2 linked regions of the Homo sapiens genome follow. Changing the gene in region 1 together with any one later gene gives a genetic interaction. Each region holds a gene or a part of one and is shown on either strand. Other genes may lie near its edges.

Region 1 (15,495 bases):
GTAGATGAGGAACGAACAGAAAAGATTCCACAGTTGGTTTCTTACTCATTTAAGAAATGACAAACCATCCCGGGAGCCATCTGAGAACACTGCACGATGCCAGGCACCTGGAGGAGTACGAAGCTGACCCTCCGTGTGGGCACACACCCTGGTAATTCTTGCTAACATGCTGCAGTGAATGGACCTTATCCTTACATGAGTAAGTGTGACCTCCCTGAGGTAGGCCCCTGGGAAGTCTTGCTATTTCCAGACTACAGCCTGGAGGAGGCCTTGTCAAATGGCAGTGCTTTACACAGAGGACACGTTAGGAGCCCGACAGCTCTCAATCTTGCCCACAGTTTGCCTTGTGGGGTGCTCTTTGTATGTAGAAAGAGAAAGAAGTTTGAAGGAAAGACAGAAATCTGCTTGTCCTCATCCAACAGCATGTCAGCTTGCTTCTGTACCATTCTTTAGGCATAAAGGGACCTGCTGGTGTTCTTCACATTCCCTGAAAAGCACTGGTGTGTTTTACTTGGCAAACATATCATAAGTGTAATATATTAAAAAATACATCTTTAAAGCTGCCATTTCCAAATGTTTATTATCTGCTTAAAATTAGTATGCTCCATCTTCCTCACTCGGCAGACCATGATGTCTAGCTAATTTCAAGAATCATGATACACATACGCTTAGCCCTCCTTAATGACAGTAATCATTTTCATTTGTACAGCCCACTGCCAGGCACCTGCCAAAACAGAAAGATACATAAGCCACGGTAAAAGGTCTACATACAAGTATATGAGAGATGACAGATTCTGCCATACTTTTACATAATTCCTTATGTGATCCATATATAAAAATAGATACATGTGTTATTATTGTTTTCCACTTTCCAGATGTAACTGAAGCTCTAAGGGATTGATCAGGCCAGGCACAGTGGCTCACATCTGTAATCCCAGCACTGTGGGAGGCCAAGGCGGGCAGATCACTTGAGGTCAGGAGTTCGAGACCAGCCTGGCTGACATGTAGAAACCCCATCTCTACTAAAAATACAAAAGTTAGCTGGGTGTGGTGGTGCACCCCTGTAATCCCAGCTTCTCAGGAGGCTGAGGTAGGAGAATTGCTTGAACCTGGGAGGCAGAGGTTGCAGTCAGCCGAGATCATGCCACTGCACTCCAGCCTGGGAGACAGAGAGAGACTCCAGGTGGAAAAAAAAAAAAAAAAAAGAGATTGATCATCTTACTACTGGCTCCAGAGCTGGGGACCTGAGCAAGACCTCGTCTCCTGGGATAGTTCCAATGCCCTTCCATTCACTGGCCTTGTTGCCACTGAAAGCCCCACTTACTTCTCTGTTCCAAGTTAAAGCTGAGAACAAAATGGACACATAACGAAAACAGATTTACCTACAAAGTTCTCTTTTCTTTGAAATTTAGCAAATAATAAGTCGTTTCTAAAATGTCAAGTTTAAATTAAACTCAGCATTTTCTAAATGTTGCATAAAACACATTCAGCTTTCCTTAAAGCAGAGAAAGACAAGGGTTGATGTTTTTCTATCCTACTGGCTGAGAAATACAGCTCAGGGCAGGATGCATACATAACAAACGCAGCCCTCTGAGTCTTTGCCCCACTCTCCTTCGTGCCAGCCAAGCTCTACAACATTTCAAAGGCATCGTTCTCCCCTACAAGAAGAGCTATGTGAAATGCCCACACAGCCCTCGCAGGAAAAAATGGGGGAAAGTCATGATAACACCTGCCATCCTTTACCTGCATTTTGTGATTATTGAGCTTGTTTGCACATCAGACACCATTTCATCCTCACTGGTGTGGCCTCCACAGAGCCAACATCCTCACCCTCTCTCAGCAGGTAAGGAAATCGAGGCTCTCAGGGAAGCATTTGGTACTGCCACATAACCTGCTAAGTCATGGGTCCCATTCAGATTCCACGTACAGAATTCTCTACCACCCCACATGGCCGCTTGTCACAGAATGTCACCTCACCTCACATAAAGGGCACCTTTGGCGTTCTGGATCAAGAGCAAGTAGATCTCAGGGTGCTCCCAACAGAGAGCAGAACCTCAGTTTTCTCACCTGCAAACTTGGGAGGTGCAGCCAGATGACCTTTTCCTAAAAGTCCAAGTCTGACATGCAGCATTAAGCAAGTCCACTCCCTGAGGTGCAAGCTACCCATTTTGCATGCAGTCCTGGTCATCCTGAAGGAGAGGCCTATGGTATCAGTGAAATCAGGCACTGCTAGACTCCCTGGTCCACGACATTGCCAACGCCAGATGGATTCGAAAAGTTGTATTTGGGAGCACAGAGGCCTCTGCAAGCTGCTTACACATCACAGAGGAGCATGAAGCCTTCAACTCCATGGAGCCCATCACTGACGGTGGCCATCTGACCTTTGGGTAAAATGTAGATGCTCTGCAACTCGCTTCACGGAACTGCTGACAACCTCTGTGTGTTAAATGAGTAATACATGAACACTTCATGATCTGTAAGCACCACCTTAAATGTTTCTTTCTCCTGAAAAGAGTGCAGCTTGGACGTGAAGGAAGGCTGAAGTTGCACGGCAGGCTGCCACTCTGAGACGGAACCAAAAGAAATAAGGCACCATTTCTAACTTTTAAACCGAGATCACAAAATAAACAGACAAAAATATCTAAGTGTATTACCTTCACCAACTGAAACCTAAACCTTTTTGCAGGTGTCGACCAACCACGTACTCCAGCAACTTATACTCAAGAATTCAACATGCAGAGAACGATGTCTATTCTCAAATGTGCAGTGCCACCCACCTCTAGACAGAGGTGCATCTGTTAAAACACAGGGGCTGCTGTGGAGATCTGTCTCTTCATCACCAGCTGGGGAAGCATCATTTCAAAGCTGTTCCCACTACCACTTCCCGAACAGCTTGCATCTGTTACTACGAAGTGGCCACATTCTTATATAAGCCAACCCTCCATCTGGGCACTAGACAAGTGATCTTCAAACAGTCTGTGGAGCAGGAGAGGCCTGCTTTAAACTTTTTTTTTTCCAGTTTCCAACCCACCGTGGTCTGGTACTTTGGCAAAATACAATAAAAATGAATTACTAGAGCCCCCCAGACTTTTTTCTTGGCCAGGTAAGATGGCTCACACCTATAATCCCAGCACTTTGGGAGGCCGAGGTGGGAGGATCGCTTGAGCCCAGGAGTTCAAGACAGCCTGAGCAATATGGCAAAACTCTGTTTCTACAGAAAAAAAAAAATTAGCTGGGCGTTGTGGTGCTCACCTGTAGTCCTAGCTACCCGGGAGGCTGAGGTGGGAGGATTACCTGAGCCTGGAAAGTTGATGCTACAGTGAGCTATGATTGCACCCCTGCATGCCTGCCTGTGCTACAGAGCTGGAGGGCTGTGTCGTGATGCAGTGCTGGATGCAGTGTGTGTCTCAGGGTTTCGCTCTGTCACCCAGGCTGGAGTGCAATGGTGTGATCATAGCTCACTGCAGCCTGGGCTCTAGTGGTCTTCCTGCCTCACCCTCCCAAGTAGTCAGAACTACAGGTGGGTGGCACCAAACCCAGCTAATTTTTTATTTTTTATTTTTTTGTAGAGATGGGGTCTCACTATGTTGCTCAGGCTGGAAACTGTTTTTTTAAATGGAAAACAAGTGTTGGCAAGGATGTGGAGAAACTGGAACCCTCATATACTATGGTAAGAATATAAAACGATGCAGCTGCTGTGAAAAACAGTAACATGTTCCTCAAAAATTACATATAGACTTACCATAGGACCCAGCAATTCCACTTCTAGGCATACACCCAGAAGAAGTGAAATCAGACATTCAAACAAAGACTTGTACACAAATGTTCAAAGCAGCACTATTCACATTACCCAAAAGGTGGAAACAACCCAATATCCCTCAACTGATGAACGGCTAAACAAAATGTGGTATATCCATCCATACTATGGAATGATATTGAGCCACAAAAACGAATGAAATACTGATCTATACGACAGTGTAGCTGAATCATGAAAACATTTAAGCTAAGCGAAGCAAGACACAAAAGGCTACATATTATGAGATTCCATTCCAGAACTGGCAAATCTATAGAGACAGAAAGCAGATTAGTGATTACCAGGGGGCTGGAGGAGGGAGGATGGGGGGTTTCCTTTTGGGGTGATGAAAGTGCCTTGCAATCAGATAGAGGTGACGGTTGCCCAACTCTGTGAATGTACCAAATGCCACTGAATTGTACACTTTAATTATGGTTAATAGTTAATGTTAGGTGGATTCTACCTCAATAAAAAATAGGCTACTAGAAAAATGAAAGACAAAAAATACAAGCCCCAATATTTTATCAACCTCAACAGACAAAACTGCTCTACCAAATTGCTATAAAGTTTGTTTCCTCTCTATTTCTTATCTCCCCTCTTAGACAAGTAACAAAGCACTCCCAGACCCACATCAGACCATGGCCCCCACTCTGCAGACCCTTGGTTCCCACCCCACCTGGCTTGCTCAGGGTCACCCCTACAGCAATTGTGCCCTCCACACACTCCCTGTATCCACAAATTCTCCCTCTATTGGGATCGCCCTCATCAGCATACAAGCGTATTATAAAATCTCTCTTCTTTAAAGAAGGAGCCAAGGCCCTTCCTTGAACTCACTTCCCCACGGGTTGACGTCCCATCCCACTATTCCTCTTACAGCAAAACTCCTGAAGAGCTGCCTGTATTCACTGCACCAATTCTTCTCTCCCATGCACTCCTGAATACGCAGGCAGGCTTTGGTTCTCACCTCCCACCAAAGTGACCACTCAGAAGGTCACTGATCATTTCCACCTTGCAACAGCTGATGGTCGATTCCAGTCCTCATCTCATTTGACATATCAGCACTCTTTGGCTCTCATTAAAATCCTTTAATTTGGCTTCTAAGGCACCGCTCACACACAGTTTCCCTCCTGCCTCACAGGCTGCTCCTCCTCCCTCTTTTCCTTGCTAGTCCTCCTCATCTACAGGGCCATAAACACTGGAGACACGCAGGCTCAGTCCCTGGTCCTTTATATTCTCCACCTACATTCATCTCTCCAAATGATCTCATCACATTGACTTCAAATAAACCTATGCACTGAACCCCCAAATCTTCATCTCCAGTAGAGATATTTCCCCTCCCCCTCAGACTCCACACATCCAACTCCTAATCAACAATCCACTTGGGTGGTTCATGGACATCTCAAACTTAACACATGCAAAGTTAAACTCGTAATGCACACAAACTTATTTTTCCCATAGTCTTCTTTACCTCAATAATTGGAAACCCCAATCTACTTTGGAATTATCTTCGAGGAGTGTACAAATACGTAGAAAATCAAAATACCAATTGGTCAGGTCAAAAATTAAGGAGTCATCCTTCACTCCTCTCTTCCTGTCCCATCCAAAGACCAACAGCAAATCTTGTTGGTTCTATCTTTAAAATATATCCAGAATTCGACCACCCGTCATCACTGCCACGCTCCCACCCTCACTCAGCCACCATCTTCTTTTGCCAGAATTACTGCCATCACCTTCTAACTGGTCTCCCAGCTTCCACCCTTGCATCCCTATAGTCTATAAGAAAACAGTCATCAGGGTGATCATTTAAAAGCACAAGACAGACAAATCACCCTGTGCTTGAACCCTGCTATGGCTCCCCATCTCACTTGAAATAAAAGCCTAATTGTTTCCAATAGCTTACAAAGACCTGCAAGATCTGACTCCACCATCTCTCTGACCTACCCTCTTAACGTTTTTCAGGATAAGGAAAGAAGGAATGGCTCCTATCCTTTTACAAAGAAAAGCATTAAAAAGCAGTAACACGACAAAAGGAAAACTTGCCCTGTAAAATGCCCCCCTCCCCCCGCCCAACATTCCATTTATTTCATGTTGCCAGCTTTATAGCAAACCCAGAGGAAGACACTGAACTTGGGTTCATTTTTTTAGATGACAGAGAAGCTAAGCTTAAATTTATTTTTAAAGAAACTGAAGAACATAGATTTAATGGGCAAATTTATACTTAAATAAGACTTTAAAGAAGACATTAAACCTACTGAAAACACTGTCTTTCAAGTTCTTTAGAAATCCCTATTTAGAATAAATAATAACTTACATATTAACACAATCAACCAAAGGAACTTAGACTTGACGGATCTGCCACATGTAACTGGTTATGAGCCAACCTTTGCCGATATCTCACAAATGAATATACTGATGTCCGCATCCCCACCCATCATTTCCTGTCTCTAGCCTCAGCCCCACCTCCCAGAAGGGCTAACATGCTCTCAAAGAACACCCCACTGTGTCAATGCTGATAAAACTGAGGATCCAGTGTCCCATGAGATGACCTTTGAGGTGTCCTTACTGACCTCCAAACACGCTTCCTTTACCTTCCCACTTGCTTTGTAAAAATTCATGCAATATAAAAAAAGCCAAAATAGCACACATTTGGAAGGCATTAAGCCTTCTGTTAAAAATTAGCTGGGATTTTGATTTTCTACGTATTTGTACACTCCTTCTCGAAGATAATTCCAAAGTAGATAGTGCTGAGATTTTACTTCCCAGCTCTCGTTTCTGAAGCTTGGGCCTCCTACTTAACTGTTAGTGGGTTAGCAGGGTACCAGGAAGTTAAGCCTGGGGCCTCCTCACACACTACTCTTTCAAATAAACACATGGCCAGAAAAGTAATAAGGAATTGTAGGTGGTATTCACCTATTCTTCTTTCCCTGTGAGCGCTAGTACAGCTGGTCTTTTTCTTTCCTGGACTGTAACCTCTTTCCTTCTGAGTCGCTTCCTTTTCTGCCATAAATTCAAATGCCTACCGCTCCTCTCCAAATTCGCTCCTCTCTGCTCTAATAAATTGCCTCTTATATTTTTGTCTTACTGCCTTGCTCTGAATTTACACCTTTGTCTCAAGAACGCCAGTGCTTCAAAAAATATTCCATTATTCCTGGTGTAAGAAGCTCAGGCAATTTCTTCCTGAAAGTGGGTTTCATTCTTAATTTTCTGTATTAACAAATGTTCCTTTAACTGCTTCATCCCCAAATTGTGCAGACAGGCCAGTTAGGATTCTGACCTTTCATGCTTGCACGCCCTTACAGGCCAAACTCAGTTAAAAATAATACCAGATTCATTCATTCATTCACTCAACCAACAAATAAATAAAAGGCATCACAGCAGGTAAGAAAGTATAGAAAATGTGTTGTTTGTCCTTAGGGAGCTTATAAGCCAAATAAATATATAGACTCAAAAGCAGTATGAAAGAAGGACCTATGGGCACACATTATATAGTATGAATACTTATAAAACAGAGTTGTGCTTGTCCACTCCCAACGGAAAGTGATTCTTAATAAAAGTGAAACTGCAATCAACAATGTGTACTTCGGCCTCTCTGCAGCTCAAACTACATAGGCTCCCGTGACCTATATATTTCATATTAATAGAAGTCCTTTATTTTATGTTAATATGGTAAATAAAGCATAACTTGCCCAGCTATTTTAGACTTTCTGGTTCTGAATTTGGAAATCAAAGCATGGTTCTGATTCTCATTCTCTAAGTTCTCTAAAGAGTCAAGTTACTTAGAAAATGAACATATCCTTTTATTTAGCACAGAGTAAATTCTTCTAGATTGGTTTCTCTTCCAAGACACCCTCTACTGCCCTGATTTCCACTTACTGCCTATTGTGTATGTTTCTCACTTTCCTACATCAAAAGAGGATGCTTAACTATAAAGAACTTAAACACGGGATCTGGAAACGCAGCAGCTGTAAAGACCTGCCTCTCACCACAGTGAAAATGCTGGGGGATGTTAAAATTGAAGTCGAGTTACTATGTATTTCAAAGTGCTTTGATTCATTAAACAGTCATTTTTTATTTCAAAGCCATTATATCAGAGTTATTTGCATTGCTACTGCATAAACTCTGAGATCTATTGTATTCAAAAATGTTTTATTATGTTGTTTTCGCCAAAAAGATGAATACGCCTTCAATTTTAAAATGAAAGTCTTTGGGAAAGGAGTTTTCAATGCACAGAAACTCACTTCACAAAAAATACCAGGTCTTGAACCACATTTAAAGTGCCCCTGTATTTCATATTGATCCTCCATAAAATACATTTTTAGCTTCCAAGGGAGAGTCTCTCATCTTACTCCTGTCACTCTAGGAATCCAGAAAGGAAAAAAAACATGATATTAAGAATCAAGCATAGCAAAGTCATTTTATAACTAAATTCTTTAAAGGATACTTATCCAAGCTTCACACAGCAATAAAATTTCCAACAATTACTAACAGCTAAGCCATTAGACACAGCTAATGACCCAATACTGGATAGCCATCCTCTCTCAACCCCAAATCCAGTCTGTGTGACCAGACACCTACCGCTCGCCCTGGCTTCCGGGTAAGAGGGAGCATCCTCAAAAGTGAAGAACTGGGGCACGCTCTGGCCCAGGTAAGAGGGAGGCGGGTAGTAAGAATGCATCCTGTACTGGGAGCTCATTGCATGGCGGTTCTCCATGTTCTTCATCTGCTTAAGAAAAAAGAAGAAATATACTGAGATCAACATTGCATGTCACAACTAGTACAATAATTATCTAGTTCTTTAAAACAAGGTAACAGGCTGGGCACAGTGGCTCATGCCTATGTTCCCGACACCTTGGGAGGCCAGGGCGGGAGGATCGCTTGAGCCCAGGAGTTCAAGACCAGCCAGGGCAACACAGTGAAACCTCTTTTCTACATAAAAATCAAAAAATTGTTTGGGTGTGATAGTGCACGAGTGAGATCTCAGCTACTCAGGAGGCTGAGGTAGGAAGATCACTTGAACCCAGGAGTTTGAGGCTGTAGTGAGCCGTGGCTGCTTGCACTACTGCACTCCAGCCTGGGCAACAGAGAAAGACCCTGTCTCAAAAAAAAAAAGCAAATTAAGGGAATAGCCTATCTAAGTTGGAAGTGGCCTCAGCCATGAATATGCTCTTCCAATGTACTGGGCCTAGAACTATGATGGTGCCCTTTCTATCTTAAGGTCCCCTCTAAAGCACCCCTGAAATTCCTTCTGTTCATTTGGTGCTCGATTAACCAGTACAAAAGAGAACAGGGTGGTGGAGAGGGGACAACACAATCTGCTGTAACACTAACAAATTTGTTTGAACGGGCGCAAGTTATCAGACCTCTTCCCATGTTTCTTCATGTGCAAAACTGGAATTTTATCTTGGTTACCTTACAGTGTTCATATAAGGAGAGTATTTAAAATGACTATAGGCTGGACGCAGTGGCTCACGTCTGTAATCCCAGCACTTTGGGAGGCCAAGATGGGCAGATCACAAGGTCAGGAAATCGAGATCATCCTGGCTAACACAATGAAACCCCATCTCTCCTAAAAATACAAGAAAATTAGCCAGACGTGGTGGCGGGCACCTGTGGTCCCAGCTACTTGGGAGGCTGAGGCAGGAGAATGGCGTGAACCCGGGAGGCAGAGCTTGTACTGAGCCGAGATCGCGCCACTGCACTCCAGCCTGGGCGACAGAGCGAGACTCTGTCTAAAAAATATATATATATTAAAAAAAACAAATAAATAAATACTGTAAAACAACATGCAAACCATGTGTAATGGGAAGCTGTGGACATTAGCACAATGCCATGCTGGATCCTGTTAGTCGGTGTCTGTTCCCTGCAGCAAGAACAGGAGTCTGAGATCTGAATTCTGGAGGTGATTTGGCTTCTGCTAACTGGACACATGGGGCAGAGCAAAACTCGGAAGGCAGTAAGGAGGCACAAGCGCCCCTCCAGTGGCAGCTGCATGTGAGCACAGCAGTCATTCATTTTTTTCCGGCAACCAGACCCTGCCTTTAGGACCATGAGATAGCTTTTATATAAGAAGCAGTTCATTCCCTGTGGCTTCCTGATTCTCATTCAAAGCTAAGAAGATATGACTTGATGGCTTAGAAAGGGCCCCCCCTCCATTTCCACTTTCCTGGCCCTGATGACTCTGATTGTGTAAGACCCACTTCCATGAACATCTAGACCCTGTTAGAGACACCGAGCATTCAACTCATGATCACATCTTCACGGCAACAACAGAGCTGGACTTCAGTTATTTATGACAGTCTTTTAAAACTTAAATTTAGATGGTACTCGCTTTTAAACAAAATTCGATCTAAGGGAATGTTCAAGATAAACCAATTCTGTCCAGAAATATGAGTAATTTCAAAATAATCCAAAATAATTCAAAATCATGTTTTTCAATCAAGTATTTTAAATGGTACTTGAAAAAGAAAATAGCACTAACTTGACAGAGCCTGGTAGTGTAAAATTAGGCACTGGGCTTCCTCAAGATTTTCTATGAACATCTACATTCTGGACAATTCACCAACTAACACTGGCTTAAGTGTACTTTGGGTATTATGGTGCTGTTTGGTAGAAAGAGCTAAGTCCCTGATTTCTGCCTGATGCTTTGAGCAGCTCAAGGAATTTATTTTTGATCTCTACTGCTCTCAAGCTCAAATCTATGTTCTCATGAGTGGATTACTTCTTCTGGAGAAGCAAAGATACCATTACAGGTGATTATTTCCTCTCAAGTGAAGTTTACCTGGGTAAGTCCCCTTTATCCTTTCTAGTTTGTTTTTCTGAAGTATATGAAATGGTGTCTCTTCTAGGCCAATCACTCCGTTTTCACTTTCTACCATTACATTAAATCTTTTTTTTTTTTTTTTTTTTTTTGAGACAGAGTCCCACTCTGTCGCCCAGGCTGGACTGCAGTGGCATGATATTGGCTCATTGCAAGCTCCGCCTCCCAGGTTCACGTCATTCTCCTGCCTCAGCCTCCCGAGTAGCTGGGACTACAGGCGCCCGCCACCATGCCTGGCTAATTTTTTGCATTTTTAGAAGAGACAGGGTTTTACCGTGTTAGCCAGGATGGTCTCGATCTCATGACCTCGTGATCTGCCCGCCTCGGCCTCCCAAAGTGCTGGGATTACAGGCGTGAGCCACCGCGCCTGGCCACATTAAATCTTTACTAAATAGAAGGTTAAAGAAGCTATACTCGGAAAACAGCCAAAAAGGAAAAACTGGCTACCCCTAATAAATAAGACCACACAGCAGAAGAGCCCATTAAGAAGCCACTAAACCATTTAAGAGAAAAGGGACAATCATGGTAGCTGTTTACTACACACACCCAGTTATCAATTAGAGCACTGCAGCATCTTTTGATGATTCCCAGCAGCTCTCAATGCGCATATGAATGGCCAGGGGGTCCTGTTAAAATGCAGGTCCTGATGGTAAGACTGGGCTGGAGATGCTGATATTGCTGGTGCCCAGGGACTAGAATACGTGATCCTTCCTCTCATACTTAGTACCTCTCAGAACCCAAGACCAAAGGAAACCCTTTAAAAAAAATTGTTTGAGACCGAGTCTCACTCTGTTGCCCAGGCTGGAGTGCAATGGCACAATCTCGGCTCACTGCAACCTCTGCTTCCTGGCTTCAAGCGATTCTCCTGCGTCAGCCTCCTGAGTAGCCTACTCTACAGACATGCCCCACCACGTCCGGCTAATTTTTGTATTTTTAGTAGAGACGTTTTCTCCATGTTGCCTAGGCTGGTCTCAAATTCCTGGCCTCAAGTGATCCGCCCGCCTCGGCATCCCAAAGTGCTGAGATTACAAGTGTCAGCCACTGCCCCAGCTTAAAAAAAAAAAAAAATTACCAGTTGCTTACAACCATCCAGTTTCCAGCTGAACTGGAAAAGTGAAACTATGTAAATAGCAATTTTTAATTTTCATTCTTTTTTTATTTTTATACACAAAATTCCCCAGAACTAAAAGATTTTTTTCAGGGGTCTGTTGCCATCTACAACTGCTGCAGCAGTAAAAACTCAAACACACTTTGAATTGAAAAGCCATTTGTGTCTCCATAGACTTCCTTAAGTCAATTACACAGTCTGAGTAGTGAACACTGAATTAGAAGCAAGGTGCCGACATAAGCCGTAATATAAATAATGGAGCCTCCCTGCTCTGGGGGCTGAGTTTGTCACATCTACTTCAGGTTTGACAATATCTTCAAGCCAGTTCTTCAAGGAAAATGCTTTTCAATTTTGCCAGGGTACAAGAAAACAGATAGGATTTGGGCCTAAATGCTCTGCAAAATGCTGGATGTTTTTTTTACTATGAAAGTTTACACAAACCTTCCTTTCAAAATGTTTGAAAAATGTTGATCATGAGTCTATAGCAGGTGTCAGCAAACTTTTTATTGTAAATGTCAAACAGTATATATATTTTAGGCAAGCCATACAGTCTCTAGCAATTTGTAAAATGAATGGGCATGGCTGTGTTCCAATAAAACTTTATTTGTAAACAGTGGCACTGGTTCCTTCTCAAACTTCACTCTCACTGGAGTAAGGTGAGAAGGGAACTCAGTACTGATGCCTGGACTCCACTCAAGAAAATCTGGTTTAACTGCTCTGGGATGTGGCCTGGGCCCTGGATATTTTCAAAGATCCCAGTTAATTCTAATATGACACCGAGATTGAGAACCAGTGCTCTACAATTACCAACATATCGTCCATATACCTTGGAAGTACGAGATCCCAACAATCCCCTATATTAACTAAAACAGGCTAAATCTGACAAATAGACTGGCTAACGCTGCCAATCCCAATGTATGTATTATTTGACAAAAAGATGAAGATGAACAGTAAAATTCTTTTTTTTAACTAACGCTTACTGGAAAATAAACACAATTTCAAATCCATGCGTGTGCTTATTTATTCCCTTAATTCCTTTTCCATGTTTTCCAAAAGCATGAAATAAAAAGAACTATTAGGAAATAGGAATTTAGTTATTTATATTCAAACATTCACTATCCTTAATGAATCCCCAAGATCACTGAGCTATAAAAGAATTCCAGTAAAAGAAGAAAAAGATACAAAGGGTCAGACTCCATTTGAGGTTACTAGAATGTGAACTGATATGGTTTGGCTCTGTGTCCTCACTCAAATCTCATCTCACACCGTAATCTCCACGTGTCAAAGAAGGAACGTGGTAGGCGGTGGTGATTGGATCATGGGGGCGGTTGCCCCAATCTGTTCTCATGATATGGAGGGAGTTCTCTTGAGATCTGATGCTTTAAAAGTGTTTGGCAGTTTCCCCTGTTCTCTTTCTCCTCTCTCCTGCTGCCTTGTGAAGAAGAGAAGGTGCCTGCTTCTTCTTCGCCTTCTGACATGACTGCAAGTTTCCTGACGCCTCCCCAGCCATGCGGACCTGTGAGTTAATTAGACCTCTTTTTTTATTTATAAATTACCCAGTCTTGGGTAGTATCTTTACAGCAGTGTGAGAACAGACTAGTACATGAACTTACTGAGGTCATCAGTCACTTCAGCTACATCCACCTCAAAGAATCCACAAACAACCCATCCACGTGACAACTTGCTCATAAGAAGAAAAGGACAGTTCTATGTGTTTCTAAGTGCATGTGTAGCAATATAAACAGGATGTTAAAACTGCAATTCATGGATGGGCGCGGTGGCTCACGCCTGCAGTCCCAACATTTTGGAAGGCTGTGGTGAGTGGATCACCTGAGGTCAGGAGTTCAAGACCAGCCTGACCAACATGGTGAATCTCCGTCTCTACTAAATACAAACAATTAGCTGGGTGTGGTGGCAGGCGCCTATAATCCCAGCTACTTGGGAGGCTGAGGCAGGAGAATCGCTTGAACCCAGGAGGCAGAGGTTGCAGTGAGCTGAAATTGCACCACTGCACTCCAGCCTGGGCGACAGAGTGCGACTCCATCTAAAAAAAAAAAAAAAAAAAAAAAAAAAAAAAAAAAAAAAAATGCAATTAACCCAGAAAAAGGCATGGCAGAATGCAATTTCAAACTAAATTACTTCCTGCTCTCTTCTAACTTTAAAAAGAAAATCACAACCCTGCTACTTTTGGCTTAAACAAAATGGGAAATTAACGAAGCCTTTGAAACTCACTTTACTTTAAACCAGTAGTTCTGAACTAGGGGCAGTCTGATCCTCCACAGGGCATCTGGCAACATCTGGAGACGCTTTTGATTGTGACAAGGGGGCAGGGAGTTGATGCTGGCATCTAGTGGTCAAGGTCAGGGATGCTGCTGACTGTCACTACAGTGTAGTGTCCCACAATTCCCACAGGACACAGAATTAACCAACCCAAGGCCTGAACAGCGCCAAGGTGAGAAGCTCCCTTTAAACTAACTGAGCACCACCCCTGTGCTCAGTCCCTCACCTCCAGCTAGAAGAAAACAGCTAAGTGCTGCTGAGGGACAAGAGCGGCAAAGAAATCAGAGGAGCCACTCAGTTTTCCTAAAGGGATATATATTTTTCTCCTTTGTGAAATGCCTCCTTGTTTCCTCTCAAGGTTTTTTTTTATTCCTTCAAGCTAAGCAAATAAATAAACCAAGTAAACCCTAAAAACCCAGGATTCCAGTGAATGATGACTACTATTATTATTAGCAGTGGTCACTGGCAAGCAAGAGGCATGTTTTATACGTTATTACCCATCCAAAGTCTCTGAACCAGAGTACGACCCATGGATAAGAGCTGGCTGGTGGAGGATGCTCATGGTGTTAGTATTAACTTTGCAGGCAACCCAAGACCTTGGAGTTGTGTTCTATTAAATTGTTAAGAATATGCATTACAGTAAACCCGAGCCATAATTTCCTTTTATACGTGTTAGCCACCCTATTTTATAGTAACAATAATATCTGAAAAAAAAACCATAAAAATGTTTGAGTTCACTTCTTTTTTTAAAAAAAAAAATCCCAAATACCAGTCACTGGTTATCTAGTAACAGTTTAGATGAGTGCCTGGTCTTGCATCAAAGTGAACAGTCTATCCAGGTGAATGACTAAAAGGGATTTGTGAAGACCAAATTGTCATCTAGTTGTTTACTAAACATCGCATGGCTGCATAAAACTGGAGTTGATGTAACAAAGGGGAACAGTCTTTTTTTTTTTTTAATTTCTAAGTTTTTTCATTTGTTTTTGAACTTATATCAGATGATGCCTTTTTCATTAAAAATGCCTGTGCTCACATTTATTAAAAGTTTTCATCATCAGTATTTAGGTATCTTGATTCTTCATGCTTCAAGACAAAAAAATCTTCAGCGTTAAGTTCGTATCTCTCTAGAGCTTCATTCAGCTTCACTGGAGGCTCTAAGTAATGCTCATTTGCAGAAAGGGGAACAGTCTTAATGAGAAGAGTTATTCTATAGGATAACATTCCTAATTGCAAACTGATATTTAAACAAATAGTGTAATGACTCAGCCAGGCACAATGGCTCACACCTGTAAATCTCAGCACGTGGGAGGCTGAGGAGGAAGGATTATTTGAGCCCGGGGGTTGGAGAACAGTCTGGGCAACATGGTGAGACTCCATCTCTACAAAAAATTTAAAAAATTAGGCAGGCATGGTGGTGCACACCTGTGTTCCCAGCTACTCAGGAGGCTGATGTGGGAGGATCGCTTAAGCCCAGCAGGTCAAGGCTGCAGTAAGCTA
Region 2 (15,925 bases), on another chromosome or scaffold:
TATTTATGGCCAAGTTTCTGTTTCTGTCTGGCAGGGGTGGAGGAGGGTTTGGGACTCAGCCCTTGGCTGTGTGTGGCCCCCACACCCTCCTCCTCCTTCTCCTCCCCTAGCAGAGGGCGGCTCTGTCCCTGCCTCCTGCCGTCACTCCCTGTGACTTGTACCTGCTGTGCCACTGGCCACCTCCCTTAGCCACACACACAACCTGCACGTGGACCAGAGGCAGTTCATCAGAGCGGCCCGCTGTGGTTTGAGTGAAGAGCCGGGAGGGTTCACATCTGAATCTCCGACAGCGTCCCAGGGCCAATGCAGCTCCCCTCCCCACCGTCCTGGATGTCTGGAAGCTCCCAGAGGGCCCCGGGTCTGGTTTGGTGGCTTGAGGCTGAATGACACACACAAGAGGCTAAGACCCAGGGGCTGCCAGACACCTCAGGGTGACCAAGGCAGGAGCAGCAGGACAGCAGTTTCCATAGTGACAGCCCCGGAGGTGCTGCGAAGCCTGGGGCATGGGCGGGTTTAGGGCGGGTGGCCCCCACTTACCCGCCTGGCCACCTGTACTGCCTGTGTCTGAGAGTGGCACCTGTTCTGTGGGGTGGGGGAGGTGTTCTGTGGCTCCTTGGCTCTTCCGTGATTTTTTTTTTTTTTTTGAGACACAGTCTTACTCCCATCACCCAGGCTGGAGTGCAGTGGTGCAACCTCAGCTCACTGCAGCCTCGATCTCCCAGGCTCGCATGATTCTCCCACTTCAGCCCCCTAAGTAGCTGGGATTACAGGTACCCGCCACCACACCCGGCTAATTTTGTATATTTTTTTTTAGAGATGGGATTTTGCCGTGTTGCCCAGGCTGGTCTCAAACTCCTGGATTCAAGTAATCCACCTGCCTCAGCCTCACAAAGTGGTGGGATTACAGGCATGAGCCATCGTGCCTGGCGGGATATTTTTTAGATAGAGTCTTGCTCTGTTGCCCAGGCTGGTGTACAGGATCATAGCTTACTGTAGCCTCCATCTCCCAGGCTCAACTGATCCTCCCACTTCATCCTCCTGAGTAGCTGGGACTACAGGCGCGCACCACTATGCCTGGCTAATTTTGTATTATTTGTAGAGATGGGGGTCTCACTACATTGCCGAGGCTGGTCTTGAATTCCTGGGTTCAAGCCATCCTCCCACCTTGACCTCCCAAACCTTCCAAGGATATGAATGCCATCTGGGCTGGCCTTTCTAGCACTGCCCTGGGTGCTGGGGAGGCAGTGTGGGACAAAACACAGAGTTGAATGCTACTGGGGGATTCGGGGTGTGGGGACATGAGAGACAGCAGATTAGATAGTCAGATGGCAGAGTGTTGGGGAAAAAAAGGCAGCGGAGAAGGGGTTAAAATGTAAGGAGGAATCAGGGAAGCCACCACCAGGAGGAGACATTTGGGAAAGAACATTCCAGAATCCTGAGAGGTGCTCAAGGAATGGCCAGGAGTCTAGTGTGGCTAGAGCCGAGGGGAGGGGAGAAGCGGGGGATGAGGGGAGGGCACGGGGCAGGCAGGTGGTGCACAGCTGCGGGAGGAGAGGGCTTGCCTCTGAGCTAGGTTTCCAAGTTCACAGCCCCCAGTGCCTGTGGGGGACAAGCCACAGGGGCAGGAGATAGGGAGGCGGTGGCAGCAGCGTCCTGAGAGGGCAGGGCAGGTAGGGGAGAAGCGGTTGGGTTCTGGGCCTGCTGGGCAGTGGAGCCAGCTGGGTTGGCCATCAGGGTTCTGTCGTGAACAGAGGAGGACAGGCTGGACACCTGGAAAAGATGGCGCGAGGCCCTGCGGAAGCCCCTCCCACTGGAGAGCTCTGGTAGTCCAGTGAGGTCGGGCCACTCTCAATTTCCTTCCCTGCTGGCCAGGACCTTCGTGGGGATCCAGGCCTCTGAGGCCTCCAGGATGGAGGATGCCACCAACGTCGTGCGTGGCCTCATCGTTGAGCTCTCCAACCTGAAGTACGGGGTGGGCTTGGACTCACGGCACAGGGTCTGCGGGAGGCCAGTGGGGACTCAGAGGAGCAGGGAGGGACTGAAGTGTGAAGCCCCTAGGTGGGCAGCGAGGGTCAGGCACCTCACTGCTGCTGGGTCCTCACCGTGGCCCCCCTCCCCCGTCCTTTGCAGAACACAGGCTCTGAAGAAAGGCTGCAACAGGCCCAGCCTGTGCTACAACAGGCCCTTTCTGGTTATGTGCACGTGTGTGAGCCGTGTGTGTGCACCTGAGTCATTGGTGACCATGTGGCTGTGAGGCGCGGCCCCCTCTGTCACCTGGTGACCACTGAGCCCCACACGCATGCCTGTGTTTCCCCCACAGCCGGCTGATCATGGGCACCCACCGGGACCTGGAAGCTTTCAAGCGCCTTAACTACCGGAAGACAAAGCTGGGAGGCAAAGCCCCCCTGCCTTACCCTTCCAAGGGGCCTGGGAATATCCCTCGAGGGGACCCACCCTGGAGGGAGTTGTAGGCCACTTTGAGGTCTGTGTTTCCTTTGCCACCCAGCCCCCATGTCCGCAGACCTCCTCCAAGATGCTCCAGGGGGTCCTAGTGGACCCTACAAACCTCCCTTCAGTTGCCCGGAAGTTGGTCTTCCATGGACAACACAAAGGAGGCCGTGAGGTCCTGGCCTCACCTGGCCAGGGTCAAGGTCATTTGCCACCCTTGGCTTCAGGGAGGGAAACTGTGTCTCCCACAGCCCCAGTGACTTCAAGCGGGCCTGGGCTCCAGGAAGCTGGCCACCTCTGAGCAGGGCCCATCCTGTCCGGATTTGCAAATTTTAGGGTCCTGAGCCAAGTATGGATGGTTCAGAATTTGTTTCTTTCCTGGAGGAGAAGAGAGCTCCCTTTGTTTTCTTTCTCCCCATTTCCATTTTATTTCTTCTGGGAAGACCCATAATAAATGATTCTGTAGAGGCCCCGTGACCTGCTGTTTGGGGCTGAGGCTTCAGTTCCTTCACCTTCCGCCCACAAACCTCTCTACCCACTTCCTCCTCCTCGCCCTCTACGAGTTTTATGCCTCAGCTTCCCTGGGAAAGCAAGGGGGGGGCGAATCTCCAGGGGTGGGTGACTGTGTGCCCACATCTGTGTGCAGGCTCTTGAGCATACACGCGGGTCGAAGCCTAAGAGACGCCCTGGGCGATCATCCAGCTGCAGGGTGAGTCCTGCGCTCCGGTGGCTTGGCCCATCCTCCAGGACAAGCTGCCTGTGGGCCCCAGACAGGAAGGAGGCCATCCCAGGAGGTTATGGATGCAAACATGGCTGAAGTCGTGGCATTTCTCATCCCACGCAAGCCTCTCGAGCCAGATGACAGTCCTGTTAGCAACCACAGGGGCTGCTGTCATCCCCAGTTTACAGAAAACAATGCCTCTGTGAAATCTGTCACTGAAAGGCTGACTGGACCTTCGACATCATGAAGCACTCTGTGACTCCTGCACCCCAGCTCCCATGGCTCAGGCGGGGTCCTCCTCCCACCCTGCAGCCTTACACCCTGGAGACCTGATGCAGGAGGGGAGGAAAGAGCAGGGTGGGTTCACACCCAGGTGAGCCCCCTGTCCACCAGGACATGCCCTGGTGTAAGCCCAGTTCCCCGGGTCTCCAGCCCCAGCGGCTCTGCCCTAGGAAACTGTAACTCCATTCCCAGACCCTGGGAGCCGCTGGGATCCTTCTGTTTTCTTTCTCCTCCTCCCCACTTCCCCCTCCACGACCCAGCTGTCTGCAAGAGCCCACCCCCATCCCCAGGGCCTCCGGTTCCAATTTAAGTCTTTTAAGTCGGAAAGCCAAGGGCAGAGGGGACAGCAAAGAGCTCGATTCCTGCTCCCCGCTGCCAGACCACAGGCCTCAGGGCTGGTTTGTGGGACGGGGGCGGGGTAGGAATGTGGACTGCACAGTGGGCGCACTGGCTTCCTGAGCACTGCCACCTGTTGCCCCAACAGGACAAGATCTGGAGGTGGAGGAGGCAGGCAGGGGTGTGGGGATTCCCCCACATGCATTTCCCCCCCGCCCTGCCAGAACAGCCCCATCCTTCTGCTCCTGCCCAAGCCCACCCAGGACATGGTCCCATTCCCTGCCCCCTAAATGTCCCTCCCTTGCTCTAAACTGCCTGGCTTGTCACTGGGGCATCCATGGTGACATAAACATTCACCTTCCTTAGTGATGAGGATGTCGGGGGGGGGGGCTCTGTCTAGTTGTGTGTCAATTTCTTCCTCAAATGAAGCCCCCACCTCCAGTACGGAGCTGGGGGTGGGATGGGAGGAGTCCACCCATCTTGCATGTCAGTGCAGGGGGTGGCTGAAAGACCAAATGTCCACAGAAAGGGTCTCATGATGTCGATCTGGCTTTGAGGTGCCATGAACCCCCCCAGCTACCCCAAGGCACCCACTTGTGTTTCTCTGCACAAAGCAGCTCACCCCAGCACCCCAGGGTGCCGAAACTCAAAGAAGGAGAAGGGGAGATCTAGGTACAGGACTCCCAGCAAGGTTCACACTACACCTTGTCCCAAGACCAGGGCTTGTCTGTTGTTGATCCATTCATAAGCATTTATTGAGGGCTGACTGGATGCCCAGCACTAGGGAAACGGCAGATGGCACAAAGGGTGGGGTCCCCAAGGACAGGGCGATTTCAGCTCTTCCCTTGCCAACCCCGGGTCATCCCCAGGGCTCAATCCCAGGCTGGGGGGAGGGTCTGGGAGTGGGGGCAGTCGTCATAGGGTGGGTCTTCCTGGAAATCCAGCCGAGCCCGGGTGCCCTTGCCCAGGTGTAGGCAGCCTCCTAGGTGGACATGGAGGGAGAGCAGGAGGGCGAAGGCTCAGACTTCCCGGCACCTCTGAAACCTAGTGGAGGGGGAGGGAGAGAAATGCTTAATCACAGGCGATGACTCAACGCTCCCCAAGTTGCCCACGGACTCGGCCTCCGGGCCTGCTGGACCTCTGGCGCCACCCAGGGGCTGCTCCGGAGACAGCGACCCCGTGACGTCTCTGGCTCCGCCGGGCGGCCCCGCTGGGACCCAGAGCCCGAGACAAAGCACAGGAGTTCCGATTCTGCGACTGTGGTGCCCTCTCGTGGCCGCCGTGCTCTGGGGTCCCCGGATCTGTTACTCCCAAAAGTTGTTCATCAGAAAGGCTGGCCGCAGGACACCATCTTCCCTATGTCCTTTTGGCCTCCAGCGTCTCCCAGTGAGACAGCATCAAACCTCACAGGAAACACTATCTTCTCCTGGAGGCAGTCTTTCATGCTTTCTTTTTTTTGTGAGACGGAGTCTCACTCTGTCGCCCAGGCTGGAGTGCAGTGACGTGACCTCAGCTCACTGCGACCTCCACCTCCCGGGTTCTAGCGATTCTCCTGTCTCAGCCCCCCGAGTAGCAGGGATTACAGGCGCATGCCACCATGCCCAGTTAATTTTTTGTATTTTCAGTAGAGACGGGGTTTCACCATGTTGGCCAGGCTGGTCTTGAATTCCTGACCTCAGGTGATCCACCTGCCTCAGCTTCCCCAAGTACTGGGATTACAGGCATGAGCCACCATGACCAGTGCTTTTTTTTTTTTTTAAGACGAGGTCTTGCTGTGTTGCCCAGGCTGCAGTGCAGTGGCACCATCTCAGCTCACTGCAGCCTCTGTCCCCTGGACCCAAGCGATCCTCCCTCGTCAGCCTCCCAAGTAGCTGGGACTACAGGCACACACTACCATGCCCAGCTAATTTTTTGTAGACACTGGGTTTCACCATGTTGCCCTGGCTGGTCTCAAACTCTTGGGCTCAAGCGATCCTCCTGCCTTGGCCTCCCAAAGTATTGGGATTACAGGTGTAAGCCATCACACCTGACCCTTTCATGACTTTAAGAAATGTTCACTGCAAAGCTGCCTGAGAGTAGTTGGGAGGGGTCGTCCTCTCCCAGTCACTATCCTCCAGGAGCTCACAGTCTGCTGGGGGAGGCAGTGCCCAAACACACCTAGTTAGACTGGCCCCTCCTCTGTTAGCTGACTTCCTCAAAGGCAATTTAAGTTGCTAGAACGAGTTTCTCTTTTAAAACCTCACTGGGGGCCAGGCATGGTGGCTCAAGCCTGTAATATCAGCACTTCGGGAGGCTAAGGCGGGTGGATCTCGAGGTCAGGAGTTCAAGACTCAGCCTGGCCAAGATGGTGAAATCCCGTCTGTACTAAAAATACAAAAATTAGCCGTGCGTGGTGGTGGGTGCCTGTAATCCCAGCTACTCGGGAGGCTGAGGTAAGAGAATCGCTTGAACCCGGGAGACAGGTTGCAGTGAGCCAAGATCGCGCCACTGCACTCTAGCCTGGGTGACAGAGCAAGACTCCATCTCAGAAAAATAATCAAATAAAAGAAAGAAAGAAAGAAAACCTCACTGGGGCCAGGCGTGGTGGCTCACGCCTATAATCCTAGCATTTTGGGATGCCTAGGCAGGAGGATCACCTAAGCCGTGTTTGAGACCGGCCTGGGAAACATAGTAAGACCCTGTTTCTATGGGAGGAAAAAAAAAACACACCAGGAATGGTGGTGCACGCCTGTAATTCCAGCTACTCGGGAGGCTGAGGCAGGAGAATCGCTTGAACCCAGGAGGCAGAGGTTGCAGTGAGCCAAGATCGCACCACTGAACTCCATCCAGCCTGGGTGGATAGAGCGAGACTCTATCTCAAAAAAAAAAATTAAAAAAAAAAAGGAAGAAAAATAAATTGATAAATAAATAAAATAAAAGTCTTCTTTCTGCATCTATAATAACCCTGCGGGCCAGATGTGGTGGCTGATGCCTGTAATCCCAGCACTTTGGGAGGCTGAGGAGGGTGGATCACGAGGTTGGGAGTTCGAGACCAGCCTGGCCAACATGGTGAAACCCCATCTCTACTAAAAATACAAAAATTAGCTGGCCATGGTGGCAGGCGCCTGTAATCTCAGCTTCTCAGGAGGCTGAGGCAGAAGAATCGCTTGAACCCGGAAGGCAGAGGTTGCAGTGAGCCAAGATCATGCCACTGCACTCCAGCCTGGGTGACAGAAAGAGACTCTGTCTCAAGATAAATAAATAAATACATAAACAAACTGGCTCGGTGCGGTGCTCACGCCTGTAATCTCAGCAGTTTGGGAGGCCGAGGTGGGCGGATCACGAGATCAGGAGTTTTGAGACCAGCCTGGCCAACATGGTGAAACCCCATCTCTACTAAAAATACAAAATTTAGCCGGGCATGGTGGCAATTAGCCGGGTGTGGTGGCGCGCGCCTATAATCCCAGCTACCCAGGAAGCTGGGGCAGGAGAATCGCTTGAATCCAGGAGGTGGAGGTTGCAGTGAGCCGAGATGGCGCCACTGCACTCCAGCCTGAGCAACAGAAAGAGACCTGTCTCAAGATAAATAAATAAATACGTAAATAAAATCAACTGCTGTTCTAAGCTCTCTCTAAGGTCTTCCCCTAACCCTTGGAGGTGGGTACTGGGGCTAATCTTACTTCACAGGGGGGCTCAGCCACTACCCTCGGACAGGTCCCCCCCAGCCACCTGTGCAGGCACCTGCTCCTCCTCCTCCTCCTCGGCGGTGGCCTGTGTCCTGTGTCTTCGCCTTGTCAGGCCGGACCAGCTTCTTGCCTGCCGAGTTTCGGGTGGTGTGGCTGTAGACGGAGGTGTAGCCCTGGCCAGTAAGTGGGCAGAAGCGTCGGGTGTGGGCGCGCTCACGTGTGGCGCCGCACTGGGGACACACGTAGTCCCGCAGGATGGGACACAGCACCCTGCCAGCCTCGTCCTTCAGCACGTGGGACTGGTAGATGGCCCGGGACTCGCCGTTGTGTTTGCAGAAAGAGCACAGGCGTTCGGGAGCTGGCGAGGACTCCAGGCTGCGCTTCTGATCCTTGGGTCCCGGCACTGGCACCGACTCCGGCGCTGGCATCGGCTCCAGGGCTGACACCGGCTCCAGCATTGGCTCTGGCTCTGGCTGGGGGCTCAGCCTGGTTTCAGGACCCTCTTTCCCACTCAGAGCCCTAACCAGGTGTGCCAAACCCAGGTAATCTGTCCACAGGTCAAAGGTCCCCATAGCTGGGCAGCATGTGCCAGGCGGAAGGAGTCACAGAGACAAGTAACCCTGCCTGGCTTAAGCTCCCTCCTTCTGACCCCTCTCTGCTGCCCCTTCCTTCCCCTCTCTGGAGCCTGGGAGTCTGTGCTGGCCGACCCTCCTTTTACCTCCAAGGGGGTGTGAAGAGGGAGGAGCAGGCTGTGGGAGGTTCCTTATTGTCACAGGGGGGCCTGGTGCCCCACTAATACTCCTCCTAAAGGGCTGTATGGCCTCTGGCTGTGCCGGGGGACTACAGGACACAGGGTGTGTGGGGGGGCATCCTGCGAGGTGCACCACAGCCCCCCGTACACACCTCCAGGGAATTGGGGGGCTACCCTGCCTCCCCTCCTTGTAGGAGTCCTTAGCCCTCCAGCCCCACTGGAGGATGGGGAGAATGGGTTGGAAACCCCACCCCCAAAGACTAGCAGTTACCAGTAACTTAAAGAAGTTAACTTAGTAACTTCTTTATAACTTTTTCTTCCTTCCCCTGGGCGGGGGAGTGGCCAGGTGCCCCTGGGTTCTTTGTGTGTGTGTGTGTCCAGGCGGGAGGTTGCTGATGCTCCAGCTGTCTCTGAAAGGAGTGTGGTAGTCCCAGGCTCATGGGCTGGTTGCGGGGGTAGGGGGGAAGGATCATGCCCCCCGGCCCCCAGCTCTGGTCTCCCTCCAAGAGTTTTCACATCGGTTGTCTTAGTGGAACCCCCATTGAATGGATGAGCAAACTGAGGTGTGAAGCCACCTGCCCATCCAGTTATTTATAAAGACATGCACCAGGCCAGGGAGTGGTGGCTCATGCCTGTCATCCCAACAGTTTGGGAGGCCAAGACAGGCGGATCACCTGAGGTCAAGAGTTCGAGACCAGCCTGGCTAACATGGTGAAACCCTGTCTCTACTAAAAATACACACACACACACACACACACACAAAATTAGCTGGGCATGGTGGCGGGTGCCTGTGATCCCAGCTACTCAGGAGGCTGAGGCAGAAGAATTGCTTGAACCCAGGAGGCAGAGGTTGCGGTGAGCCAAGATCAAGCCACTGCACTCCAGCCTGGGAAACAGAGTAAGACTCTGTCTCAAAACAACAACAACAAAAAGCACCACATCTGCCTCCTTCTTCTAGTTACTGGGGCCCCCTGAGGCTAGGTGCTGGGGAGGGAGCCCTTTCCTGGCGGGGGCTGCAGAGGGGTGAGAAAGAACCCTCTGGAGTTGGGAGGTGGGGGATAGCAAGTTGGGCTGTTAGGAGGGGACCCCTAGTACCTACAGGTCTTCAGTGTCCTCCCCGAGATGAGATCTCAGCTCAGTCCCAGGAGGGGAGGGTGTGCTCAGGACTTGGACACAGAGGAGAGACGCTGTGCCGCTTACACAGCTCATCCACCCATCCATTCATTTAAGAAACTTTTATTGGCCAGGCACTGTGGCTCATTTTGAGAGGCCGAGGAGGATTGCTTGAACCTAGGAGTTGGAGACCAGCCTGGGCAACGTTTTGAGACCCTGTTCCTACAAAAACACTTTTTCGAAATAAGCTAGGTGTGGTGGTGCGTGCCCGTGGTTCCGGCTACTGGGGAGGCTGAGGCGGGAGGATCAACGCTTGACTCCAGTTATTAGAGGCTGCAGTGAGCTAAGGTCACACCATTGCACTCCAGCCTGGGTGACAAGAGCGAGATCCTGTCTCTAATTTAAAAAACAAAACTATGGAGCACTCCACGGAGCAGAACTTACCACCCACATTTCAGAAAGGGGTTTTAGGCCAGGCAAAGTGGCTCATGCCTGTAATCCCAGCACTTTGGGAGGCCGAGGGGGGAGGATTACTTGAGGTCAGGAGTTTGAGACCAGCCTGGCCAACACAGTGAAATCTCGTCTCTACTAAAAATACAAAAATTAGCCCACTGTGGTGGCAGATGCCTGTAATCCCAGCTACTTGGGAGGCTGAGGCCAGAGAATCACTCAAACCCTGGAGGCAGAGGTTGCAGTGAGCTGAGATTGGGCCACTGCACTCCAGCCTAGGCAACAGAGTGAGACTCTGTCTTAAAAAAAAAAAAAAAAGGGGATTTTAGCTGCCCTGCCCCAGCCTGTTTACCCCCAACCCTCTAATATTTAGTCCCAAATCCAGCCAGAGCCCATCCAGATTCCAGACACCAGCTCTCCTCTCCAAAGAGGAGTGGTTGGGGTCAGGGCAAAAAACAGGCTGAGTGACTGTGGCGGTGGGGGGTCCTGTCCCCAGTCCCCATTCCCCTTAAGCCGTGTCTGGCCCAGCCACAGTGACATTCATCCCCCGGTGGGTCTGGCCTCAGTCCTCACAACCCACCGACAACAATGAATGTTGATTGTGACCTCGGCTGTGGCCTAGGGGAGGGGACGTGCCCAGGCTGGATTGGGGGCTCCCCAGGCCCCCCTAGATCTGGAAGGTCAGAGTCACCGGCAGGAGGATGGCAATTCCAGGCCTCAGGGTCCACTCAACGGTCGATGGTTTGCCTGAGCTGCCCAAACTCACCGACAGGTTGAATGTTCCCCCAAACCCTTGGCAAATTTTCCGGGACCTGGAGTCGGGGGTGGGGTAGGTGGCAGGGAACCAGAGAGCATGAAGAGGGAGAGGAGGAGAGAGTAAGGAACCCCTTTTCTCTCATGAAATAAACAAACGCTTTTCAGGTGCTGTTTGCACCTAGATCTGGGAAAAACACAAGGCAAATATAAATGCTAGTAAATAAAATGTAGCCTTTGCTATGGGGATGGAGATGTAGCAGTGCAGGGGAGTGCTGGCCTCAAGCCCGCTCCTTAAGTAATTCACAAAGTGATCCTGGAGGTGCAGATTACCCCCCTTTGTCAACTGGGGAGACTGAGGCCAAAGGCCACTGCTAGTCCGAGGTGGAGGAGGCATTCCAAGTGTTCCCGGGAAGTCTGGCAACGGAGGATCCTGGCCCCGAGGGCATTGATGCAACGTGGAGATAAACAAGCCATTTTAATACAATGTAATACGTTCTGGGAGCTTCACTGAGTTCCGGGCACGATGGTTTAGGAATCACAACAGCGTGAGTGGAGCGCTTGGGGGTGGGGGGTCGTCAGGTCTCTCCACTTTACAAGTGCACTGGGGCCCCACTAGACAGGGGAGAGGCAGGAGGTTCAGAGAGGGCGCCGCTCGCCCCGCGTGCGCGGTCACACAGCATCTGAACTCGGGCACTTCCGGAGGGAGTCCGCGCAGCCACGTGGGGGCTGCCCCTTGGGCCTCAAAACCGGCTGCGGCGCCCCCTCTCCATTTCCTCATCCCTCAAATGACCCCCAGTCCCTTCCTCCAGTGATCGCACAGAGTTCGGCGACCACCCCCCCGCCCCGGGTGCCCCCAGGCCTACAGGTACGCACCCCTATCTCCCACCCCCCGCAAGCCAAGCAGTGACGACCAGGGATGGGCGAGCGCGCCTTCGCCCCTGACCTGGGTCTGCGGACGGCCTAGGAAGGTGCACCCGGCATGGCCGGGTGCTGCGGCTCAGGCCTGTAATTCAGTATTTTGGGAGGCTGAGGCGGGAGGATCTTTTGAGCCCAGGAGATGGAGACCAACCTGAGCAACATAGCGAGATACCTGTCCCTACAAAAAAATTAGCTGGGTGTGGTGTAGTGAGCCTGTAGTCTTAGCTACTTAGGAGGCTGAGATGGGAGGATCGCTTGGACCCCAAGAGTTCGAGGCTCGAGGCTGCAGTGAGCCGTGATCGCGCCACTGTATTCCAGCCTGGGTCACAGGACGAGACCCCGTCGTCGCAAAAAAATAAGTAATTTCCTGGCCCCTGGCATTTCACCGAGGGGAATACTGAGGCCCAAAATAACCGCCTGGCATAACCCCAAGGTAGATGAGGGACCCCCAAGTGTGCCGAGCTGCGTGAACCACCCCCCCACCACACCCCTCACGGTGGTGGCAACGGAACCCGGCCGAGCCCCCGAGGACGCGCCCCCGAGAGCCCCGCCCCCGAGAGCCCCACCCACAGTCTGGAGCCACCAGCCAAGGCCCCAGCCCAGGCCCTGCCCCTTAGAGCCCCGTCGCTTTTGACCTGTTCCCCAGAACACACTCCCTCTAAAACCCGCCCATATAGACTCCCACGGAGCCCACCGCCAAACCCCTAAGCCAGTCCTCAAAGAGCCCAGCTCCCTTAGGGCCCGCCCCCTTAGAGCCCTCCACAAAAGCCTGCTCTATAGACGCCCCGGGACTGCGTCCTGCCCCCACGAAGCCCAACCCCCCACTAAGGTCCGCCCCGACCGGGCACGCCCCCAAACCGAATTTCGTAGGGCCCCTCAAGCCCGATCCCGGCTAACTCGCCCTCCCGAAGCCCCCCTCCCGCCTCCCGGCACCTTCTAGAGCCCTTTCCCCAGAGCCCGCCCTCTCACCCGCCCCGGGTCGGGGTCACGTTCCCACCCCTCTGTCTGGAGCTGGAGTGGGGCGCCCTCTCTCGCAGCTCATCCGCCACGTCCAGCAGATCCTCCCATTCAGGCTGTGGAGTGGGGGGGCCTGATCGGCTTCTCTTTATCCGCCACCTCCACCCCAGGTGTCCAGGCCCTTCCGAGGGAGGTGGCCGGTCCCCTGCCTTGTGGATCATCATTCTAAGGAGGAGAACGCCTAGGACTTGGGAAGGAGAGTGAGTTGGGAGCACAGGTGTTAATAATTACATTACTGATGATAACGCTACATTCATCACGCTGTGAGCAGGATATACCCATTTTGTGGACTGGGAAGGTAAGTGGCTCTGTTAGTCCAGAACTCTCAAGATTCCTCAAAAGCTTGGTTCTTGTCTGTAGTCCCAGCTAGTTGGGAGGCAGGAGGATGGCTGGAGCCCAGAAGTTGAGACTAGCCTGGAAAACACAGTGAGACCCCCATCTCTCTCTCTCTCTCTTTTTTTTTTTTTTTTTGAGATGGAGTCTTGCTCTGTCACCCAGGCTGGAGTGCAGTGGCGCGATCTCTGCCCACTGCAATTTCCACCTCCTGGGTTCAAGCAGTTCTCCTGCCTCAGCCTCCTGAGTAGCTGGGACTACAGGCACCTGCCACTATGGCCAGCTAATTTTTGTATTTTGAGTAGAGACAGGGTTTCACTATGTTGGCCAGGTTGGTCTCCAACTCCTGGGCCTCCCAAAGTGCTGGGATTACAGGCATGAACCACGGCACCCAGCAGTGGTTCTTTAAAACCCCGTTTCTTTAAAAAAGAAAAATCTTTATTCTCTTTTTTGTTGCTGTTGTTGTTTTGTTTTGTTTTGTTTTGAGACGGGGTCTCGCTCTGTTGCCCAGGCTGGAGTGCAGTGGCGCAATCACAGCTCACTGCAGCCTCGACCTCCCAGCCCCAACCAATCCTCCCACCTTAGCTTCCCAAGTAGCTGGGATCACAGGTGCCTGGCCTGGCTAACTTAAAACAAAAACAAACAAATAAAAAAAAGTTTTGTAGAGATGAGATCTCACTATGTTGCCCAGGCTGGTCGCGAACTCCTGGGCCTCCCAAAGTTCTGGGATTACAGGCATGAGCCACCTCGTCCCACAGGAATCTTTCTTCTTGATGACTGTGAACAGCTTTAATGTTGGGGGCGGGGGGTCATCAGGCAGGAGACATTCTGGCTATGTTGGAGGGGGTTCCCCAGACACCTCCTGTGTGTCCTTTCTGCCTCCCACTCCTCCCTCTGAGGGCTTTGGCCTTGAACTGCCAAGGAGGTTGTTCCCTGTAAGGTTTCTCCCTAAGACAAGACACAAGACCACAGTGGAAGAGGGGTCTGGTCTTGAAGGCCAGGAAGCTGGGGCTGGGGCGACAGGAGGCCGGCAGCCCCAATCCTGGGTCTGACTATCTCTCTTCTTTGCCTGTGGTCCGTGCAGGCTTCTGGCCCTCAGTGTCCATCTGGGTCCACCTGTCTCTTGGTCATCCCAGGGTCGTCTGTCTGGGTCGGACTATGCCCCTCACACATCTGTTCTCCATCTGGGTCTCCTGCCCAGCCCGTGCACCTGCCTCAAACTGTCTGGATCTGCCTGTATGTGTCTAGCTGTTTACCCCCCATCTCCATCTCCTGTCTGTGACTGGTGACCGTGATACCTGTCCCCTCCTGTCCCCTGAGGGAGTCTGCAGCCCTGCCCTGCTTGTCTGGTTGCAGCTGTCTGCTGGTTTGACTTTGAAGTCCCTCAGAGTGGGAGGTGACAAGCTGTCTCCTCCTGCTTGTGACCCTGAGCCTCAGTGCATGGGGGGTAGGGGTGTCTTTCAGGGCCTTCATTTTGCTTCTTCTTTATCCTTAGTTCCTGGGACCCCTCACCTGACCCCAGTGCAGCTGGGAGGGTCTTTCTGGGCAGGGGAGCTGGGGATAAGTGGGGTGTGGGGGACGGCCCTCTAAAAGCCACGTTATGAGCCGGGCACGGTGGCTCATTCCTGTAATCCCAGCACTTTGGGAGGCCGAGGCGGGCAGATCAGTTGAGGTCAGGAGTTCGAGACCAGCCTAACCAACATGGTGAAACCCCATCTCTACTAAAAATACAAACAAACAAAAAAAAAGTAGCCAGGCATGGTGGCGCACACCTGTAGTCCCAGCTACTTGGGAGGCTGAGGCACGAGAATTGCTTGAACCTGGGAGGCAGAGATTGCAGTGAGCCGAGATTGAGCCACTGCACTCCAGCCTGAGTGACAGAGTGAGACTCCGTCTCAAAAAAAAAAAAAAAAAAAAAAAAAGCCACGCTATCCCAGGGCCTTGCCCCCACCCCCCCACACATAGCACCAGGAAGGTGCAGGGCAGCTGGCACAAGTCGGGGGATCAGAGTCGGAGGTGAGAAGTCCTAGCAGAGGCAGGTGAGCAAGTGATGGATGGATGGATGGATGGAGGCAGCTCTACCGTCAAGCTGAAGAACAAGGCTGGGCGCCGGGTGGCTCATGCCCGTCATCCCACTGCTTTGGGAGGCCAAAGCAGGAAGACTGACTGAGCACAGGAGTTCAAGACCAGCCTGAGCAACATGGTGAAACCCTGGCTCAACTAAAAATAGAAAAACTTAGCCGGGTGTGGTGGTGTGCGCCTGTAGTCCCAGCTATTTGGGAGGCTGAGGTGGGAGGATCACGCAAGCCAGGGAAGTCGAGGCTGACGGAAGCCAGGGAAGTCGAGGCTGCAGTGAGTGAGACGCAGTCACGCCACTGCACTCCAGCCCAGGCTACAGGAGTGAGACCCTGTCTCAAAAAAAAAAAAATAGTTGAAGAACAAGGTGGGCATGGCTAGAAGGCCAGGTCTCCAAGCTCCCAGGGGTGTCTGGCGGCCCGTGTGTCCTGCCCGTGATTCTTGAAGTCTTGACTGTGAAGTCCCTCAGGGTGGGAGGTGGCAAGCTGTCTCCTCTCGATCTCAACCCTGAGCCTTGGTGCATGGGGGTTGGGGGTGTCTCTGTATGTTCACGCATGAGTACCTATATATATGCTCCTGTGTGTCTGTGTGTTGTATGTAACTGTATGTGTGTGCGTGTGTGTGTGTGTGTGCGTGCGTGTGTGTGTGTGTGTACTTGGGCCTGGAAGGGGGACACGGGGTGGGGGAGGTCGTCAGGACCTGGCAGACAAAGAGCCCATTATGGGGGTTCCAGCGACACCAAGAGCCCTGTGGGGGTCTCCGTGGGGTCACGGTGATGGCCCAGGCTGTCTAGACTGGCAAGCAGGGGTGTCTCGTTTCAGTGATACCTGCGTGGGCTCTGAGGTTCCCACCCCACCCTCCGCAGGCCACCTCCCCCACTTCCTTTCCAGCTGCGGGAGTCTTTCATGCCAGGGGTCCTCAGACAAGGGGCTCCTCTGTCCCACCCAGCCCGTGGGCGGTGGGTGGGCTAGGAGCCCAGCTTCCTTCCCAGGCCTGCCAGATGTGAGGCCAGGGCTGGGGAAGGCGAGAAGGTTCTGGCTTCTCCAGGAATGGGATTGG

Evidence for each region.
Region 2: of DMRT1 (region 1) and NANOS3, changing one enhances a phenotype caused by changing the other (phenotypic enhancement), as found in Homo sapiens cells (one study listed by BioGRID).

The regions. Positions count from the first base shown.
Region 1 is NC_000009.12:909,781-925,275, reverse strand, and holds part of DMRT1 (doublesex- and mab-3-related transcription factor 1), read right to left. Parts: intron 8,517-15,495; coding exon of another isoform or gene 8,514-8,516; coding exon 8,369-8,513; intron 1-8,368. UniProt on the Homo sapiens protein: Transcription factor that plays a key role in male sex determination and differentiation by controlling testis development and male germ cell proliferation.
Region 2 is NC_000019.10:13,869,348-13,885,272, reverse strand, and holds NANOS3 (nanos homolog 3), read right to left. Parts: upstream 8,140-15,925; 5' UTR 8,025-8,139; coding exon 7,508-8,024; intron 4,832-7,507; coding exon 4,770-4,831; 3' UTR 4,516-4,769; downstream 1-4,515. Other genes in the region: BRME1 (break repair meiotic recombinase recruitment factor 1), read left to right, coding at 1-154. UniProt on the Homo sapiens protein: Plays a role in the maintenance of the undifferentiated state of germ cells regulating the spermatogonia cell cycle and inducing a prolonged transit in G1 phase. Affects cell proliferation probably by repressing translation of specific mRNAs.